Linked DNA regions of Homo sapiens. The protein of the gene in region 1 purifies or fractionates together with the protein of each later gene. This does not show direct contact. Each region holds a gene or a part of one and is shown in the gene's direction. Other genes may lie near its edges.

Region 1 (3,648 bases):
AGAGGAAAGCCTGGGGAGGGAGGCCAGGGGGTGGGGAGGACAGGGGGTTTTGGGAGCAGAAGATGAAGGTGAAGGGGCAGGTCCAGTTCAAGGGACAGAGTGGCAAGGAATGAGGGATGTGGGGCCTGTACCTAAAAGGGGTGTGGACTCTTGGGAGGGGCAGGATGGGGTCTTGATAGATGCCGGGGGTGGGCCAGCCCCAGTAGCCTCACGGTTCTGCCCGTGCACAGCTAAGCCGGAGCAAGCCCTGGAGCCACCACTTGTATCCAGCACCCTCCTCCGGTCCCCAGGGTCCCCGGTAAGATCTCGGGCACTGGGCGGTGGGGCTGTGCCCACGGCCTTCAACCCGACTCTCCGCCCTTCTCCACCCCAGCAGGAGACAGTCCCTGAATTCCCCTGCACATTCCTTCCCCCGACCCCGGCCCCTACACCGCCCCGGCCACCTCCAGGCCCGGCCACATTGGCCCCTTCCAGGCCCCTGCTTGTCCCCAAAGCGGAGCGGCTCTCACCCCCAGCGCCCAGCGGTAAAGAGAGGGGTTGCAGGGATTGGGGGAATCTAGGGGATGAGGGGAAGAGGAGGAAGAAGAAGGGGACTGGGTCTGGGGCCAGATGAGAGGAAGGGGGCAATGGGGACCCTTTCCCCTGGGTCGGTCTTTCTGTGGGTCTGTCTGTCCCTACCACAGGCAGTGAACGGCGGCTGTCAGGGGACCTCAGCTCCATGCCAGGCCCTGGGACTCTGAGCGTCCGTGTCTCTCCCCCGCAACCCATCCTCAGCCGGGGCCGTCCAGACAGCAACAAGGTGGGCACCATCCCCCACCCCAAGATCGGTTTGCTACCCCCAGGCCCTCCTGGGCTCCTTCCTAGGCTCACCCAACTCTCTGCTCCCCGAGACCGAGAACCGGCGTATCACACACATCTCCGCGGAGCAGAAGCGGCGCTTCAACATCAAGCTGGGGTTTGACACCCTTCATGGGCTCGTGAGCACACTCAGTGCCCAGCCCAGCCTCAAGGTGAGCCCCGGGCCCAGGCTGGCACCCCCAAAACCACAGGGCCCCTTTCTGGACCCCCCCCACCCAAAACTCAATTGCAGGGGAGTGCTCCAGACACTCTTGCCTCCTCCCATCCCAGTGCCTCAGTGGGTCCCAGGGTACAGCCTCTAGCACCTGCCTGAGCCCCCCTGGTGGCGTCTGCAGGTGAGCAAAGCTACCACGCTGCAGAAGACAGCTGAGTACATCCTTATGCTACAGCAGGAGCGTGCGGGCTTGCAGGAGGAGGCCCAGCAGCTGCGGGATGAGATTGAGGAGCTCAATGCCGCCATTAAGTAGGCAGGGTCCAGGCGGGTGCTGGGACCAGGGGGCCATGCCGCCTTACCCCCAGCCCCTGACCCCTGCCCTGCCCCCAGCCTGTGCCAGCAGCAGCTGCCCGCCACAGGGGTACCCATCACACACCAGCGTTTTGACCAGATGCGAGACATGTTTGATGACTACGTCCGAACCCGTACGCTGCACAACTGGAAGTTCTGGGTGGTATCCTCCCTCAAGCCCATGGCTGGGGGGCTGCAGGGGCTGTGGCAGGGTGAGACCAGGCTGGGCCTGGGATGGAGGCCTAGCTCTCCAGGCCGGGCAGGCTCAGAGCTGCTCCCAGGTGACAGGCTCTGGCTCTGCCCCCTGCTTCCATGCCCTGGCCATCTTGGCCAGCAAAATTGCCCAGGGATGGGGGGCTGGGAGCAGAGAGGGAAACTGAGGGAGGAGTCCTTGGGTAAGGGGAGCCTTGGCCCTGACCTCAGGAAGCCCCGAGGGCAGTTTGGGAGAATCTGAACTCTGGAGTGAGGACTACAGAAGACTTGGAATCCACTCCCTGATCTGGCTCAGGGGTCAAGTTCTTGACTGAGCCCAGGCAGGGAGCTCAGGGATGGGGGATGGTTCAGCACACAGTAAGGGCCGTGGAGGGGCAAGGAGGAGGGGACTGAGAGGCAGAGAGCTGGGAAGGTCTTGGCAGGACAGAAGTAGGGACTGCAAGCCAGGTGCGGTGGCTCACGCCTGTCATCCCAGCACTTTGGGAGGCCGAGGCAGGTGGATCACTTGAGGCCAGGAGTTCAAGACCAGACTGGCCAACATGGCAAAACCCCATCTCTACTAAAAATACAAAAATTAGCCAAGCGTGGTGGCATGTGCCTGTAATCCCAACTACTCGGGAGGCTGAGGCAGGAGAACAGCTTGAACCTGGGAGGTGGAGGTTGCAGTGAGCCAAGATTGTGCCACTGCATTCCAGCCTGGGCAGCAGAGTGAGACTCTGTCAAAAAAAAAAAAAAAAAAAGTCCGAGCACAGTGGCTCACGCCTGTAATTCCAGCACTTTAGGAGGCTGAGGTGGGTGGATCACGAGGTCAGGAGTTCGAGACCAGCCTGACCAACATAGCGAAACCCCGTCTCTACTAAAAATACAAAAATTAGCCAGGTGTGGTGGCGCACACCTGTAATCCCAGCTACTCAGGAGGCTGAGGCAGGAGAATTGCTTGAACCTGGGAGGCAGAAGTTGCAGTGAGCTGAGATCGTGCCACTGCACTTCAGCCTGGGTGACAGAGCGAGACTCCGTCTCAAAAAAAAAAAAAGAAGAAGTAGGGGCTGCAACATGAGTCATTGGGGTTCAACGTTAGACAGTGTCCAGGCCCTTTCTTCCCCTGGTTTGAACTGGGCATCAGGGCTCCACGTGGTGTGGGGGGACCAGCTGGACCACAGGCAGCTCCTTGACCTGGGCCCAGTTCAGCATCCTCATCCGGCCTCTGTTTGAGTCCTTCAACGGGATGGTGTCCACGGCAAGTGTGCACACCCTCCGCCAGACCTCACTGGCCTGGCTGGACCAGTACTGCTCTCTGCCCGCTCTCCGGCCAAGTACGTGAGCCATCTCCCTGCCTGCTAGAGGGACCCAGCCTCGGGGGTGGAGGGAGCATTCCACCCTGCTTAGATCCCACATCCAGCTTGCCATCAACACAGCCTAGGGTTGTGGCCACCCCGCATCCCCCAGATGGTCCTCTGGCCACCAGACGCCTGTAGACAGAGGTTCTAGGAGGGGGTGACAGTCTTGCCAACTAATACCTCCCCCTATCCCTTTGGTTCCACATCCAAGGGTAGGGCCCTGACCCCAGGAAGTGTCTGTCTCTCTCTCTCTGTCTCCCACCCAGCTGTCCTGAACTCCCTACGCCAGCTGGGCACATCTACCAGTATCCTGACCGACCCGGGCCGCATCCCTGAGCAAGCCACACGGGCAGTCACAGAGGGCACCCTTGGCAAACCTTTATAGTCCTGGCCAGACCCTGCTGCTCACTCAGCTGCCCTGGGGGCTGCTTTCCCTGGGCACGGGCTCCAGGGATCATCTCTGGGCACTCCCTTCCTGCCCCAGGCCCTGGCTCTGCCCTTCCCTGGGGGGTGGAGCAGGGTCCAGGTTTCACACTTGCCACCTCCTGGAGGTCAAGAAGAGCAGAGTCCCCGTCCCTGCTCTGCCACTGTGCTCCAGCACCGTGACCTTGGGTGACTCGTCCGCTGTCTTTGGACCGCTGTGTTTCAATCTGCAAAATGGGGATGGGGAAGGTTCAATCAGCAGATGACCCCCAGGCCTTGGCAGCTGTGACATTGGGGGCCTAGGCTGGCAAC
Region 2 (3,648 bases), on another chromosome or scaffold:
ACTCAGTTTCCCAACTTTGAAACTGCGTGCTGGTACATGGGGAAGCACCTGCTGGAGGCATTCAAAGGTACTGGTCACTCCGGGGTGGGCGTCCAAGCCTGGGGCTCTTGGCTGTGGGGGCAGCCAGACCTGGTCAGGGCTGACTGTCTGGGTGTGAGTGCCGCCTTCCTGTGGCCTGAGCAAGTCCTCTTGGGACTCAGACCCCTGGGGCTCAGTTTCCCCATCTGTATAATGCAGGACTAGATTGAACAGGCTGGGCCTCTCCTTCCGATTGGACTGTCCCTTGTTTTAGAACGAACACTGGGCTGTGGGTTGAGAGGGGTGAGTGTGCATGGCCTCAGTGCAGGTATCAATCACACCTGCTCCACCCTCCACACTTGCCTCCATTGGGAGGGTGGAGCCCTGGCTCTGTCACCAGCTGAGGAGTGGGTGCGAGTGGGCTCTGGGTCCCCTTAGGCTCCCTCAGGGGCCTGGCAACTGGACCGTGAGGCAGGCTTGTGGCTCGGTGGCCCTCTGTGGATGCACTTTGGCATCCCCGGGCCGCCCTTTTCTGTCCCAGGTCCTGCCTGGCCACACCCTCAGAGATGAGAGCAGGTGGCTCCTGCCAGCCACCACCCTGTCCAGGCCTCCAGACTGCCCAGCAGCGTGAGGGAGCCTGCAGGAGAGTTTGCATTTATGCGTGATTTCCTTTCTCGGTGTGGTTGCTCTTAGTTGCTCTTTTTTGGTTCTAATAGCAGCCAAGAGCTCTTTTATGCAGACCCTTTGTACTCTGGCCCTAGTTTGAGAAGGTAAAATGGTCCTTAGTCACGGCTGGCCAGGTTGCGGTAAGATTTTCCCACTGTTCCCCAAATCTGGAGCCCTGAGCTTGACTCTGGCAGAAGGAAGTGCCCAAGATGGGAGTCTAACCCTGCCCTCAGGGGACTGGTGCCAGGGAGGCAGGGATCAGGGCAGCACCTGGGAAGCCACCCCACAGGGCCAGCCTGACTACTGGCCAGCCAGGCCACTGTGGCCATATCCTCTCTGCCTGACCCTCCCTCTCTGAGTGGACGACAGTTCAGTTGGCCCCCAGGACTGAGAGGACCCAGGGAGCTGCCATGGTCCTGGTGCGTCAGAGCCCTGGAGCCCTGGAGCCCTCTTCAATGGGAAGAGGGAGGGGAGGCCCACAGCAGGAGCACACCTCCCAGCTGAAATGTAGTTGGTCCCTACACTGTGCTAAGGGGCGCCATGAGGTGGGAAGAGATGCTTGGGGATGCCTGGTGTGGGCCCATGGACAGCCTGTGGCCTGGGTCCTGGCATGACTGTGTCCCCTTGCTCAGGTAGGGCTGGGGTATTGGGCAGAGTGAGGAGAGCAAGGCAGCCTGTGTTAGGGGCCTGGAGGGTGAGACAGTGGGAGGATGGTGGGAGGGCCAATCTTTCCTCAAGCAGGGCAGGCCACCAGGAGGATGGGCGCCCCCAGGTTCCAAGAGGAACTGTTGGCAGTTGAGCTGGTGGCCATGGGCGGAGGGAGACCTCTGGAAGGCTGGACCTGGCATCCCCCGGTCTGGCTATGTGGCTGGGCATGAAGGCACCTGTGGGCAGCAGGCACCCACCCACCTCACCCAGTGTCTCCTTCCCAGGCTCTCACAAATCTGGGAAGCAGCTGCCCCCTCATCTAGTCCAAGGAGCTAAAATTCTCAATGGTGCTTTCCGATCGTGGACGAAGAAGCAGGTAGGAATCATGTCACAAATGCCCTAGGGCAGGAGAGCAGTGACAGGCGGGAGGACCTCCCTGGAGACCCAGCAGCAATGTCCAGGACTTGTCCTGCTTCAGTGAGATCCAGCCTGGGAAGGACGGTGGTGCTCCCCTGCCTGGCTTGGCCCGGGGTGTGCCTTTGCCCCAGACACCCCATGGGTCCGTCCCCTGCTGTCCACTGATTGGGCCACCTGAGGGCTGGGGGAGGACAGATGTAGATGCAGAGCCCCCTCCATCAGGGGCTCACAGCTTAGTCACAAGTTGGTGGGAGGAGGGTGACCAGGTGCTGGTGTGTCCTGGGAGGAAGGTGGGTCTGTGGGTGGGGGACAGATGGCCTATGGTGGGATGACACTGTGTGAGCACAGAAAGGCCTGGAACCTGGTGGGGGCAGGGAAGGACTGGGGGAGTGGCTGGCCCCAGGACAGGGAGTGCTGGGGACACCCTGTCGGCTCCTCCTGGCTGGCCCTGGCATCAGCTCAGAAGCTAAGCTGCCTGATTGCAGGTGCAGCACCCCAGCCACCTTGCTCTGTGACCCGGGCAGCCCCTCCCTGTGACTCTTACCGATGACCATCCTGTGCGCGCCCCCACAGAAGCCACTTACTGTGTTGCTTAGCATCTTCCCTTGGTTTTGGCTACAGAAGGGAGGGGAAGGTCTGGCCCAGCCTCGAGCACCCTCTGGGACAGTGTTTCCTACTGGGCTCATTGTGCAGAGGTACTATGCCCACTCTTGAGGGAGGAGGACCCTCTCCCAGGCCAGAGAAGGCCAGTGGAGATTTACAGGAAGCCTTCAGGGAATACAGGCTGCAGGGAATACCATGTGTAGCCTGCCTTTCTCATGGGTGGGCCAGGCAGGAGAGGCAGCCAGTGCACTCCCAGGGCCATCCTGCAGCCACCACCTCCGTCAGGCCTCAAGGCCCAGGGCAGTCCAGGGCGCCCCTGCCACCTCACCTTAGCCATGTGGCTGGGTGGAGTGGCCTCTGACCAGGAAGAAGGGATGGGACCCTTGTCCATTCCATAGCCTGCTGGTGGTGGCCTCAGGCAAGCTTGTCCTCTCTGGTACTTGGTTTGTCCACCTATTGATGGGGGCTCACAGCAGAGACCTCTTGCCAGGGCAGAGTTTGGCTCGGAAGCCCCTCGCCTCATGCTCATCTGAGTGGCTCGGCAGTCAGGCGACAGCCTGCAAGAATGCAGGGGTAAGTCAGGACCACGGGAGGTGTCTGGTGCTGACCCTGGGTCCGGTTGTCCTGCAGGCTTTGGCAGAGCATGAGGACGAGCTCCCGGAGCACTTCAAACCTTCACAGCTAATCAAAGACCTGGCCAAAGAGATCCGGCTCAGTGAGGTGGGGCCGTGTCCAGGTGCTGGGCTGGACCCCTGGGGATTGGGGAGGGCCCACCTGTCTTTCTCTGGGTCCAGGGGCCAGCCTAACACAGAGCTGCCAGGTCTGGGAAGGCCAGTGCCCCAGATGGTCCTCCTTGCACTTTCCTGGGCAAGCTTGCCTTTGTGAGGGCTCAGGGTCCTAGGTCTCTGGCTGGGTCTGTGTCCTGGTGTGAGTGTGTAGGGACTGAGAAATGGCACCAGCCTCTCTGAAACTCCCATGGGGAGGGCACTCTGTGGGAGGAGCCCCTGACTCAGCCCCTGCAGTCCCAGCTTGTGTGTTCCTGGATGAGCCCTCAGCCGCTGTGCTGGGGTAGGACAGAAGAGCCTTGGGGAGAGCAAGTGACTCATGGCATGTCGCAGGTGTGAGTGTGTCACACAATAGCATGGGTTGGGTGTGAGTGTGTCACATGATGGTGTGGGGTAGCTGAGCCTTTCTGGGCTGATAGTTCCCCGCCAGCCTGGCACTGAGTGTCTCCAGCATCCTGGTGTGTGGACCGTCTTGGGCCACAGTTTGGCAGAAGCAGCATGTGACCCTCTC
Region 3 (2,437 bases), on another chromosome or scaffold:
GGAGCGAAGTGCACACCTCACCATCCTTCAGTCTAAGGAAGAAGGGCAAGCCCTGGGACCAAGAGCTCTCCCGCCTTCTCCCTCGAGCAGCAGCAAGGACCCTGACGCTGTCCCCGATAACTCCCTAGGGGCTCCTGCCTGCCCAAGCGGCTGAGAACCAGCGCCCCGATGCCTGAGGCTGGGAGCCTGAGCCCCTTCAGCTTTGAGGGGGGTGATACTCCAGGCTGTTTGGGGTGGGAGCCAAAAAGAGTTGAGAGGCCAGGGCCCTTGGTGGAAAGGGGCACCAGCCTTGGTCTGAGATAGTCACAACCCAGGTGACGATGCCCTCTCAGCCAACACTGCCAACCTGACCCTGTCATCCCGATTGACAGCGCCACTTCAGGTGGCTGGGTGACTAAAGGGCTTGTCTTGGTGGGGTCTCCCACCCCTCCAAGACCCATTCTGCACAGTCCCTCCAGGGTTTGGGCAGGAGATGGCCAATCATGCGCCCACCTCTCCAGTGCTGCCTGCAGTCAGCTCGGCCTCCCCGACCTGCAGCCCCAGACTCTGCTCTCCCAGCACTGACTCACTCCTGCCTGGGAGGGGAATGCAGCATTCATGCTGTGTGTCCTGGTATTGGGAGGTTTCTGGGAAGGGCAGAGGATAAATGTGGCCCTGCCTGCTCCCAGGTATACCTAGGACCACCTGGCCAGATCCGCTCCCAGACGGCCTTGGACTGCTTGCATTTCCCCGGAGAAAAAGGGGTTAATAAATGGGCCATCCTTTCCTGAGCTCTGGGTATACTACCAGTCACAGAACGTCAGAGCTGGAAGAAGCCTTAGAGCTCAACTTCTTCAAGCCCCTCACTTTACAGATGAGGAAATGGAGGTGGTCCAGAGAGGGTCTGGGATTCCCAAGGTCACACAGCCCAGAAGAGATGGGGCTGGGTTAAGAACTCGAGTCTTCCACCTTTCTGTTCAAGGCTGTTTGTCTACCCAGAGGAAGGAGGCACTGCTGAATGGCTATGGCCTGGCTAAGAAGGTGATTAGTCAGTAGGGTGTGAAAATTCTACTTCAAGGGGTTCGGATTGGTGATCATGGGGATTGGCATGGCTGGGTTCCCGTCCAAGGTGTGGGCAGAGCTTCTACCAAACTTCAACATGGAGGGCTGACTTGAAGCTCCCTGTCCCCCTCACTCTTGCCCCAAGAAAAGAGGCCAAAGCAAGAGCAGATTCCCTAGGCAAGAGCAGCAGCACAACTAGGAAACCCCAAAGCCCATGCTCCGACAGGTGGCCCTTCACAGGGGGCAGCGGGACAGGCATCTTGAAGGGCATATGTCCTCGGAAGCTCCGAGCCTGTTTTCTGTAGTTTATAGTTAGAGCTCTATTTTGTTATGGTTTTTTAAACTTTTAAGTCCTGCTCTATTTTCCTGGGCAGGTTTATGTTGATGTTTACCCACTACAATTTTTTAAAAATATAAGCTCACATGCCTTTTCCCTGCCACAGCCAAACCCCCACTGCACCCTACCCACCCACCCCTAGCCCAGGTCAGCTTTCCTGGAGCTGGCTAATGAAAGCCTCCTCACCTCTTCCCAACCCTTACAAGCAAGGGTGCTAGGGGCTCAGCTATACGACCATTCTCCCTGACAGGGAGTCCAAACTTGGCCTAGCATCCCTCCTGGCCCCCCTCTGGCCACGACTTGGCCTGTGCCTGGTTCTCTATCAGAAAGGGGATGCTGAACAAAACCTCCTTCCAAGTTTTATCCAATTCGTTCCTCATTGCCTCGGGCTGCGTCAGGGGAAGCAGGGGACAGGTGTCCAGTTGCTGGGCCGAGGGAGGAGCTGGTTTGGCATAGGACCTAACCAGTGAAGCTAGAGGCTACAGCCACTAAACTTGCTTCAGGCCAACGATAGTTACTCACAAGTAAGTACCTTAATGCTAATGAGGTCCACTAAAAAGGGGAGGAAGGCAGACCTCCTGGGAGACCCACGAAGGGTTTTTAGCCAGGGAAAACTGAGCCCCAGGAAAACCTAACCACTGGGCAGGCAGAATTTGTTTGAGGGATAGAACGACAACAAAATAAATGTTCCTGCAGCCTGAGATTTCAGGTAGAGTACTGACTAAGGTTTAATAAGACAATAGGTGACCTGAGGACATGCAAGCTTGTAAAATGCAACAGCCTCCTGCTAGAGTGACTTGTACATGAGCTTGCTTGCAGAAGACTAGATTAGATGTTTCTCAGGATCCCCTCCTGCGCAGGGGTTCTCTGATTTTCGTGTTCTCTGCCCAGATGGGCTGGGGGAGTTGAGAGTGTGCTTATTTTCACTGCGATCATGAGACCACAGTTCTGGGTTATCTCCTCTCATACATCAAGCCCCAGAGGAGGCGGCAAGAGGAACAGCCACAAACAAGTACTTTACCCCACAGCTTAGTGGCCAGTAAACACCCTGGGGACTAG

What was found.
Region 2: the proteins of MLXIPL (region 1) and PHF2 purify together in Homo sapiens (affinity purification with mass spectrometry, with the first as the bait; one study listed by BioGRID). This does not show direct contact.
Region 3: the proteins of MLXIPL (region 1) and CNTN2 purify together in Homo sapiens (affinity purification with mass spectrometry, with the first as the bait; one study listed by BioGRID). This does not show direct contact.

What each region holds. Positions count from the first base shown.
Region 1 is NC_000007.14:73,593,515-73,597,162, reverse strand, and holds part of MLXIPL (carbohydrate-responsive element-binding protein), read left to right. Parts: intron 1-230; coding exon 231-298; intron 299-373; coding exon 374-524; intron 525-683; coding exon 684-799; intron 800-890; coding exon 891-1,010; intron 1,011-1,193; coding exon 1,194-1,321; intron 1,322-1,402; coding exon 1,403-1,526; intron 1,527-2,759; coding exon 2,760-2,889; intron 2,890-3,179; coding exon 3,180-3,298; 3' UTR 3,299-3,648. UniProt on the Homo sapiens protein: Binds DNA as a heterodimer with MLX/TCFL4 and activates transcription. Binds to the canonical E box sequence 5'-CACGTG-3'. Plays a role in transcriptional activation of glycolytic target genes. Involved in glucose-responsive gene regulation.
Region 2 is NC_000009.12:93,656,529-93,660,176, forward strand, and holds part of PHF2 (lysine-specific demethylase PHF2), read left to right. Parts: coding exon 1-67; intron 68-1,616; coding exon 1,617-1,708; intron 1,709-2,982; coding exon 2,983-3,072; intron 3,073-3,648. UniProt on the Homo sapiens protein: Lysine demethylase that demethylates both histones and non-histone proteins. Enzymatically inactive by itself, and becomes active following phosphorylation by PKA: forms a complex with ARID5B and mediates demethylation of methylated ARID5B.
Region 3 is NC_000001.11:205,074,188-205,076,624, forward strand, and holds part of CNTN2 (contactin-2 precursor), read left to right. Parts: 3' UTR 1-2,437. UniProt on the Homo sapiens protein: In conjunction with another transmembrane protein, CNTNAP2, contributes to the organization of axonal domains at nodes of Ranvier by maintaining voltage-gated potassium channels at the juxtaparanodal region. May be involved in cell adhesion.